Linked DNA regions of Homo sapiens: region 1 is linked to region 2. Evidence: fine-mapped QTL for protein levels in blood plasma. A gene starts in region 2. The other region holds a variant in brackets. All regions are shown on one strand. Distances are between the middles of the regions. Region 1 overlaps IL12RB2 (interleukin 12 receptor subunit beta 2). Region 2 holds the start of IL12RB2 (interleukin 12 receptor subunit beta 2).

Region 1 (4,000 bases), 22 kb before region 2:
TATGAGATGCAGTCTCGATCTGTTGCCCAGGCTGGATTGCAGTGGCACAATCTTGGCTCATTGCAACCTTTGCCTCCTGGGTTCAAGTGATTCTCCTGCCTTAGCCTCCCGAATGGCTGGGATTACAGGCACGCACCACGATGCTTGGCTAATTTCTTGTCTTTTTGGTAGAGATGGGATTTCACCATGCTGGCCAGGCTGGTCTCGAACTCCTGACCTCGTGATCTGCCCACCTCAGCCTCCCAATGTGCTGGGATTACAGGCCTGAGCGACCATGCCGGCCTAAATGAGTGCTTTTAAAAACTAATATTCAGATGGCTATTTCTTGTGTCTCCAAAGATTTAATATTGGCATAAAGTTTACATAGGCATTTTTGCTTCAATAAAATATTTTCTTATACTTCAATAACATTCCCTTCCCAATAATTACTAAAAAAGAAAAATTCATCAGACTGAAAAACACATTTGATATCCTTTTCATAGTTATGGGTGGCCAGGTGGTTCTCATTTGTGCAGTAAATATCAAAGGCTTGAAGTACAGTGTTATAATATTTGGACAAGAGAGGATTGCTGGATGCTAAATTTTATTTTGAAATATGTGTCTCCAGAGCCTACTTTCTTTCAAGCTTTCCATATGGCTTATTGAGCCACATTACTTTTCATAGAATCAAAAATATAAAACATATGAAGCTTTAACAAGAAATGAGATTAATTACTGGTTATAGCTCTGTGAAATAAGTTACTGAGATAGTAAGAGAGATAAGTTATAACCAAGCATTATAACCAACATGACTGATAGCAAACAGGAGTAGAACTTACCCAATGTTAAAAATTTCCTTGCAACACAAACATATTTCCTTGAACAGTTTCAGCACTTAAGTTAATATAAAAATTAACTTGTTAACTAATGCAGTCATGCTTTTTGATTCAGCACCAGTAGTTTAAAGATTCTATTCCAAGGAAATCATTACATCTTCCCCCCTCTCTCCCCTTTATTGCTCCCCGATAGGTATGTATATTTTGGACATATACCTTCTTCTGGTGTTTGTGCTCTCAATGATTCACTCCAATCACTCCAACTTCCCTTATAAAGATGTAGCTTAGAGGAAATCTGAAATTCATATTCTGTAAATGGTTTCAGATCCAGCAAATCATGTCTTCCTTTGGCCTTTGTAACATTAACCTTGAAACAGACATTTTTTTAAAGTGCCTATTAATACTAGATTGCTAATTTAAGGAATTTTAACATAAAATGAAAAAAAAAAAACCCAGGCTATTTGATCTTATTTGTTTTTCAGACCTACCATTAAATGAGAAGAAATATCAGTGACTGTCTTACCGAATAGATATGATATTAATCTGAAATGATAGCATCTCATTAAAAATAAAACAAAATCTCTGGGTACTAAGAACCCATCTATGTAGGTTCTCGAGGGGAATCCTGAAACCAGCTGAAAAATAAGATTGAAAACTACAAAGTTTCTACACTAGAGATTATTTTTTATTTGATTACAATTAGGATGTGATGAATGTTTTAACACAAACATAGCACTGGCTTTTTTTTT[T/AAAAT]TTTAAAAAAACCCTTTAATTAGTTATACTCTCTTGAATATCAGCTATCTGTGGGACTGATCCTTTGTTATTATAAGCCATTGAATTTTACAACAATCCCGGAAAGAATCATAATCCTATACCTTTTATTTTAAAACATGCAATGCCTAATATTATATTAAATTGTAGACCTTTTCTTTGGAATATTAAATTCTATATAACTCTCTGTGGACATTTCTTAATATTTCTCTTTTCAATATCTTTTTTAAATGCTAAAAAATAATAACAGGACAGGGTAAATAATAAGGAGAAATGAATCCTCTGTTAGAAATAAACTATAGAAAATTAATATTGGTTTACAAAAGCTTTAAAAATTTCAGAATCAGAGATCAAAATTCAAGATATTTCTTAATCAACAGAGGCATACATGACTTTCTGATAATTCTCTCGTGTGTACTTTTGGGATAAATATTCTTAAACTCTATTTTTTGCTGTATGAAAAGACAGAGGTCTGCGCAGCAATATTAAGAATGCTTCAGTGTTTTTTCCTTCACTCTAAAGATAATTACCATATTCCAGAGCCTGCTGTTACTGGGCCGATATCTGAGTCGATTAAGCAGTACCAGTCCCTCATCTCTCCAATAAAGGGTACATCTGCTCACAGAAGCCTTTTGAAATTTGATTCTAATGTCCCACGGAGGAAGAGGCCTCACTAGTAACCAGGACAAACAAAAAAGTGTGGTTCAGGATCTGTGATCAGCAATTGTCTTATGTACTGGCATGAGCTATAAAGAGTTTGACAAAACTCAGTTCTGAGATGCACAACCATCAAATTTGGTAAAATATACAAGAGAAAAGTTCCAGGCTTTAAGAAAGAACTTTTTTAAAAGCTGGATTCACTTCTGAATCTTTAAAATAATCCCCCTTAATCAAATCTCATTTTCACCAAATAACTACTACCAACATTAGTGGTAAGTTTCAACTACACTTAGTCCAGTGGTTTTTCAAAAACCAATGTGCCAAACCCAAGAGTTCCAATGACTGAGAAGCCAGAGACGGCTAGTGATGACTGCCTCAGGAGGAGAAGAAATGTTCGTAGGAAAATTCATAGCAAAGGGACAGAGGAAAAGAACAAGGGGGCGAGAAGGTAGCCTAGAGATGAACGGTCTATGAAAGAAATGGGAGGAAGCCTGAGAAGAAATATGGTGGAAAAGTGTATAGTAAATGCCAATGATCAGACTCATCGTTAGCAATATGTATGCAGAGAAGTGCCATGGAAAGAGAGGCGAGAAGCACATAGTGTGAGGTTGGAACTTCAGGCAGCCCAGTTCTGCCTGGATGGTCAGAACTTGGAATGCTTGAGATTGGCCTCTGATTCAACTGGACCGATTACATTTGCTCAGAAATGTACTGGCTCACTCCAGGGATGGAGGTGAGTATTCTCAGAGCAAGATGCATCTGTGACTTGAGAAATTTTATTTATAGTTTGTACCTCGCTGCTCTAGCCTAGCAGGCCCACATGTAGCCTATCTCACAACAATGGGAGTAGCCATGGGGGCGAAAGGACACCTCCTCCAAGAAGGGCTTGCACTGAGCATCTTGAATGACCTCACAGGACCCTCTCCTCAGTCAGGTGGTATCATTAGTAGCTGGTTCTTTCATGGGATTTGAATCCAGGGGCTAATTTCTTCAATAGAGAGAATAATGTTGAACATCCCACTTTGTATAGCCATCTTTAGATAGCTCAGAATAATGCACCCTTTTACTTGCATCAAAGTAACTTCTATCTTTTGCTTATGCCTGTTGGCCAATTTCCATCAATCTCTGTCTTTCTTGAAACAACCATATAAAAAAGATTTGAGTGATTTTAAAAATAATTATAAAGTACCAATGAAACAGTGAAATAAAATGTACCTATGTCCAAGAATGTGAATGTGGATGGAAGTGAAGAGGAGCTTCCAAGACTATTGACAGCAGTAACCTTGGCTGTGAAATTGGATTCAGGTGATTCAGGGGTGAGGTTGATTCCAAAGTCCAAATAGTCACAATAAATGTCTTTACATTGCTTCTGCCAGGTTAAATTTTTTGGTCCACTTAGCCTGTAAACAAAACACAACCACGTGTAGCAACATGTTTTATGTGCTACTTTCTACTTACAGTAGAAAAGAACAAAATGTTTAAATATTTAGAATTCTAGACAATTTTTAAAGGTCAATCTTATGACTAGGGGATACACCCCGGGAATATTTGTACTATATGGTCATGTAAGACTATACTTCACCCAACTCCCTTTTTTGGTAGAACTGAGATGTTCTTCCACATTCATGTAGATAGGTAACCAAGCCTACGCTGCTGAAATTCCCCAAACCCTGCTTGTCATCTTGGCTCCCCAGGGCAGTTCCAAACATTATCCTAAGCACTGTGGCCACCTTGACATCTGTGGCACAGAATTGTCAG
Region 2 (4,537 bases):
AGGAAATTGTATAAGACTTCCTTTGGGATTTGGCTTTTTTTTTTTTTTTTTTTTTTTTTGAGATGAAGTTTCATTCTTGTCGCCCAGGCTGGAGTGCAGTGGCGTGATCTCTGCTCACTGCAACCTCTGCCTCCCGGGTTCAATCGATTCTCCTGTCTCAACCTCCCGAGTAGCTGGGATTACCATGCCACATGGTGTGTGCCACCATGCCCCGCTAATTTTTGTGTTTTCAGTAGAGACAGGGTTTCGCCATGTTGGTCAGGCTAGTCTCAAACTCCTGACCTCAGGTGATCCCCCCACCTCGGCCTCCCAAAGTGCTGGGATTACAGGTATGAGACACCGTGTCCCGCCATTCTGCACAAATTTATTTGTAGGAGTTGACAGCAGTGCTGTGAGCGTAATTACAAAGATGACAAATAATTTGGTAGAGAACAAAGCAGGTGCAGCAATACAAAAATAAGTCCACAACTGAGAAATGATGCCCAATACCTACTGTACTTGGCGGATTCTTCTACCTTAAAAATTACATGTGTGCTTTCGAATTTTTTTTCACACTAAAACTCATTCTAATACAGAAAAGATTCCGTTTGTCAAAGTTTGGGAATTTATCAGCCTATGTAATGAACATGACATTCAAGAGGCATGACATATGGAAAAGAGCATATTGCAAACTTTTCTGGAGGCTGTTGTGCCTAACAGATAGTGTAATGTATTGAGGATTTCACATTAAAATAGGGAAGGAAAGTGTTAGCTCTTAGCCACTAAGGTCCTTTTAGTTATGTGTTGGACAGAGAAATAGGGCACTGTACCATTCCTATTAATGGAAAATGAGAATCCAACGTTTGTTTGTTCAAGTGGAGGTGGTTATAAGGTTCTGAGCCAGAGAGGTGGAAACAGAAGGAACACAGTTTTGAGCCAGAAACCTGTAACTCTCTAACTGTGTGAAACATGTAAGTTTCCACATCTGTAAAATGGGAATACTAATAACAATTTCACCATGTTTTTAAGGAATTAGATAATATATATCCAAAAACCAAATACATAGTAGGTGCTCAACAAAGATGTTCATCTACACAGAGCACACACATAGCAGATTATAACAATTATCTAGAGTTTTAAAAATGGGGAAAAAAGGACTAATTTAGCTTTATTCTTTATATATATATGTGTATGTGTGTGTGTGTATATATATATATATGTATATGTATGTATGTATTTATTTTTAAGACAGAGTCTCGCTCTGTTGCCCAGGTTGGAGTGCAGTGGCCCCATCTTGGCTCACTGTAACCTCTGTCTCCCGGGTTCAAGCAATTCTCCTGCCTCAGTCTCCCGAGTAGCTGGGATTACAGGTGTGCGTCATCATGCCCAGCTAATTTTCGTATTTTTAATAGAGACAGGGTTTCACCATGTTGGCCAGGCTGGTCTTGAACTCCTGACCTCAAGTGATCTGCCCACCTTGGCCTCCCAAAATGCTGGGATTACAGGCGTGAGCCACCGTGCCGGGACCCTGTTCTTAGACAAGGTCTATTTGTATGCTTTTAGGTTACTATTTGTAAGACCTGGATCTAATGGTACAGATACATAATCCCGTACAATGCTGACACTGATATTTAGTGTGTCCTAGGGAGATGAGGAGGGCCTCATAGTTCACAAAGGAAGGGGCATTTCACAGAAGAGAAAACTGAGGCTGGCCAATTTGCTTGCACCAGAGCATCTTGCTAGTAACTGGCCAGGCAGGGACTCGGGGTCAGTCCAGAGGCCACAGGAAAGACTGCTGAGACAAGGTTAGTTCACCCTCATCCGGGACTACGGAAGGCCCCCCCCAATATCTTACTCACATTTGATACATTTTCAAGCAACGGGAGCCACGTCTGTGGGCCTGAACCAAGGCTGGACCCTCAGGGGTGCCCTCTGCCCTTTTCCAGTCGCCGTCCCCTCCCTTCCGTTTGAGCCCACCACTCTGTGCCCCGGCCCAGAGAGTACCTTGGAGGCTCAGTCCGCGCGCTCCCTCCCCTCCATCCAGCCAAACCACCACCCAGTACCTCCAAGTGAACATCTGTGCCCAGGGCGTTAGGACTGTGATGAAGAGAAGCCATTTCGGATCGTATTGGAAGACTTTAAAAATATATATATACATATATATATATAAAGAGAGAAGCCGTCGCCGAAGCCCCCTCGGGAGACGCGAGACACGGAATCCCGGGCACGCAGACACCCCGCTGGTCCGGGATCCTGGGGCTCTCTCTGTCCCCGACCCCGAGTCACTGGTCACTCACCACGTGTCGCCTGCCAGCGGGCGCGGTCCCGGGCCTGCGGGGACCGGGTGGCCCCGGTGCTCTGGGCCGCACGTGTCGCGCTCTCCGCGCTCTCTGCCGGCGCTCGGGCGTTCCCGGTGCCAGCGCCCGCCCTCCCGCCTCCGCCTCCCGCCTCTGCGCCACCAACTCCGGGGTGGGCGCGGGGAGCTGGCGGCGAGTGAGGATCGGGCCGGGGCGGGGGTCGGGGCTGGGCGGTGGCCGCAGGGCGGAGAGGACTCGCTTCTCAGTTCAGCTCTGGAAGCGCAGCCGGGCGGGCGCCCGTGGTTTCCACCCCGCGGGTCGAAGCGGGCTCGGGTGGGATTCTGCCACCTGTGGGCTCTGCTGTGTCGCCTTGAGCAAGATAATTCTCTCTCCACCGTCAGTTTCCCCTCATATAAAATGCGGATAATAAAGCCTGTCTCATAAGACGGAGCAAGGGTTGACCGAGGTGAGGTGCGTTTATGCACCAAGATATGATAGGCGCGATAAAATCGTGTGCTCAGCGTTCACAGCCATAGAGACGTGGCACTTTGTTGACAGCCATCAGGGAACTTTCCTCGCAGATGTCCTTTCTCTGTGCTCTGCACCGCCCAGCTCTTACCACACCTGAGCGCCGAGGCCTCCCAAGTGGGCTGTGCACAAGACCGCCCACTGGAGTGCGGGCAGAACATACTGGAACTTCCATTTGTATTTGCTGTCTAAAAAATGAGAAAAAAGTTAAACTTGAACAGATGGCGTGTCACCACTCCCGTATAGGTCCCGTGTTATAAGTGGTGTTCTCAGGCAAGAGGGAAAACTGCCCAGAGTACAGAGGGGTCGGCAGCTCTGCATAATATTCATGACATAATATTTATGACAATATTACTTAGAAAAAAACTGTATTTAAACCTGTAAAGACAGACTCTCACTCTGTTACCCAGGCTGGTCTCAAACTTCTGGCCTCAAGCAATCCTCCCGCCTTGGCTTCCCAAAGTGCAGGGAATACAGGCCTGAGCCTCTGCACCCGTCAGCTTAGATTTCTTTAAATCTAAGACTTCCTTAATTATAAGATATACCATTATTTATGCGCTAGTAAGAAATAAAAAGAACTGCCAGGTAAACAATAACAATGCTTTCTCAACATTTAGAATCTTTTAAACTAAAATTTTATTTAGTTTAGAGATTTTATTTAGATATCTCTAAATAAAATTTAGATTTTAAACATATGTATATTATCTATCGAATTTTTTTTTAAGTCCCCCCCCCTCCCCCACCCCGTTGTCTCTGGAGTTTTCTTCTAGTCCACTGAGCCCAGTACAGGTTTGCTGAGCCCGCAGAAGTGGACAACTGCATACCACGCTTCTGGGCATTACCTTAAAACCGCTCTCAATGTTTGAGATGTTAAATATGAAAAATGTACATCTTGGAATCAACAATGTACAGTAGATTGTCTTTATGGGATTGTGACATACTGTAGTTTACATGCTTTAGTAATTTATCTACATGAATAATTTTACTAAAATCTTTTAAATCGTAGAATCTAGAATCTTAATATTACTTTGTAATGAGATGATACATAATTGTAGAAATCATTTGTAACAAAGATTTTAAAAGTTGTCTTAAAGTGAGTTATTTTCTTTATTTTTACAAAAAAACCCCAAATATCCTAAATTTGCTGATCTTTTCTGTATTGATATATGGCTCTCAGTACATGTTATCTAATAGATCTTTTTGAAGAACAAAAAACCCCAGAGGTTTATTTGTTGTTTCTTCAAGGTAATTTTCACACCAAGTGATACGTTGTTATGAAGAGACGATTTGAAAACAAATATTTCGAAGTGTTCCCATTATTGTGTGTTTTTCTTACTGAAGATTTTATGATTGTCATCACAGAAAATGCTTTTAAAAACTCGGAAACAATTTGCTATTTTGTTTCAATCTTTTAATTGAGCAGTTCAGTGGATTTTAAATCCATTTGTTAAAAAATATAAAAATGCAGCAGCTTCTCATTACTTTAAAAACTGATTGATATCAAGAATAAGATTATGATAGCCAAATGTTATAACAATCTTGCATAATTCATGGATTTTTCAACACTTTTTAGTGAGAAGGAAGGCTTTTAGTTTTGTTAATAAATCAATAATTTCAAAAATGCATTTTACTCTATCTCATTTAAAAATTTAATTTATATATTTGTGTGTGCATATGTGTGTGTGTGTATATACACACATATAAATATACATATGTTTTTCTGTTTTTTTTTT

The links. PIP is the chance, under the fine-mapping model, that this variant and not a neighbour inherited with it causes the effect. Sun 2018 read protein levels with aptamers (SomaScan).
Region 1: its variant is fine-mapped to the plasma level of the IL12RB2 protein (Sun 2018, PIP 0.94).

Annotation. Positions count from the first base shown.
Region 1 is chr1:67,327,842-67,331,841 of GRCh38, reverse strand. It overlaps IL12RB2 (interleukin 12 receptor subunit beta 2), which reads right to left. Exons shown (of 17, transcript NM_001374259.2): 6 at 3,458-3,642; 7 at 2,113-2,255; 8 at 1,032-1,182. Among named protein-coding and RNA genes, the nearest start is that of IL12RB2, 22 kb to the right of the region's middle. The variant T/AAAAT (reference allele first, on the strand shown) is at 1,565.
Region 2 is chr1:67,305,707-67,310,243 of GRCh38, reverse strand. It overlaps IL12RB2 (interleukin 12 receptor subunit beta 2), which reads right to left and starts at 2,371. Exons shown (of 17, transcript NM_001374259.2): 1 at 2,277-2,371. RefSeq lists a silencer at 2,319-2,508 and enhancers at 2,969-3,018, 3,049-3,148.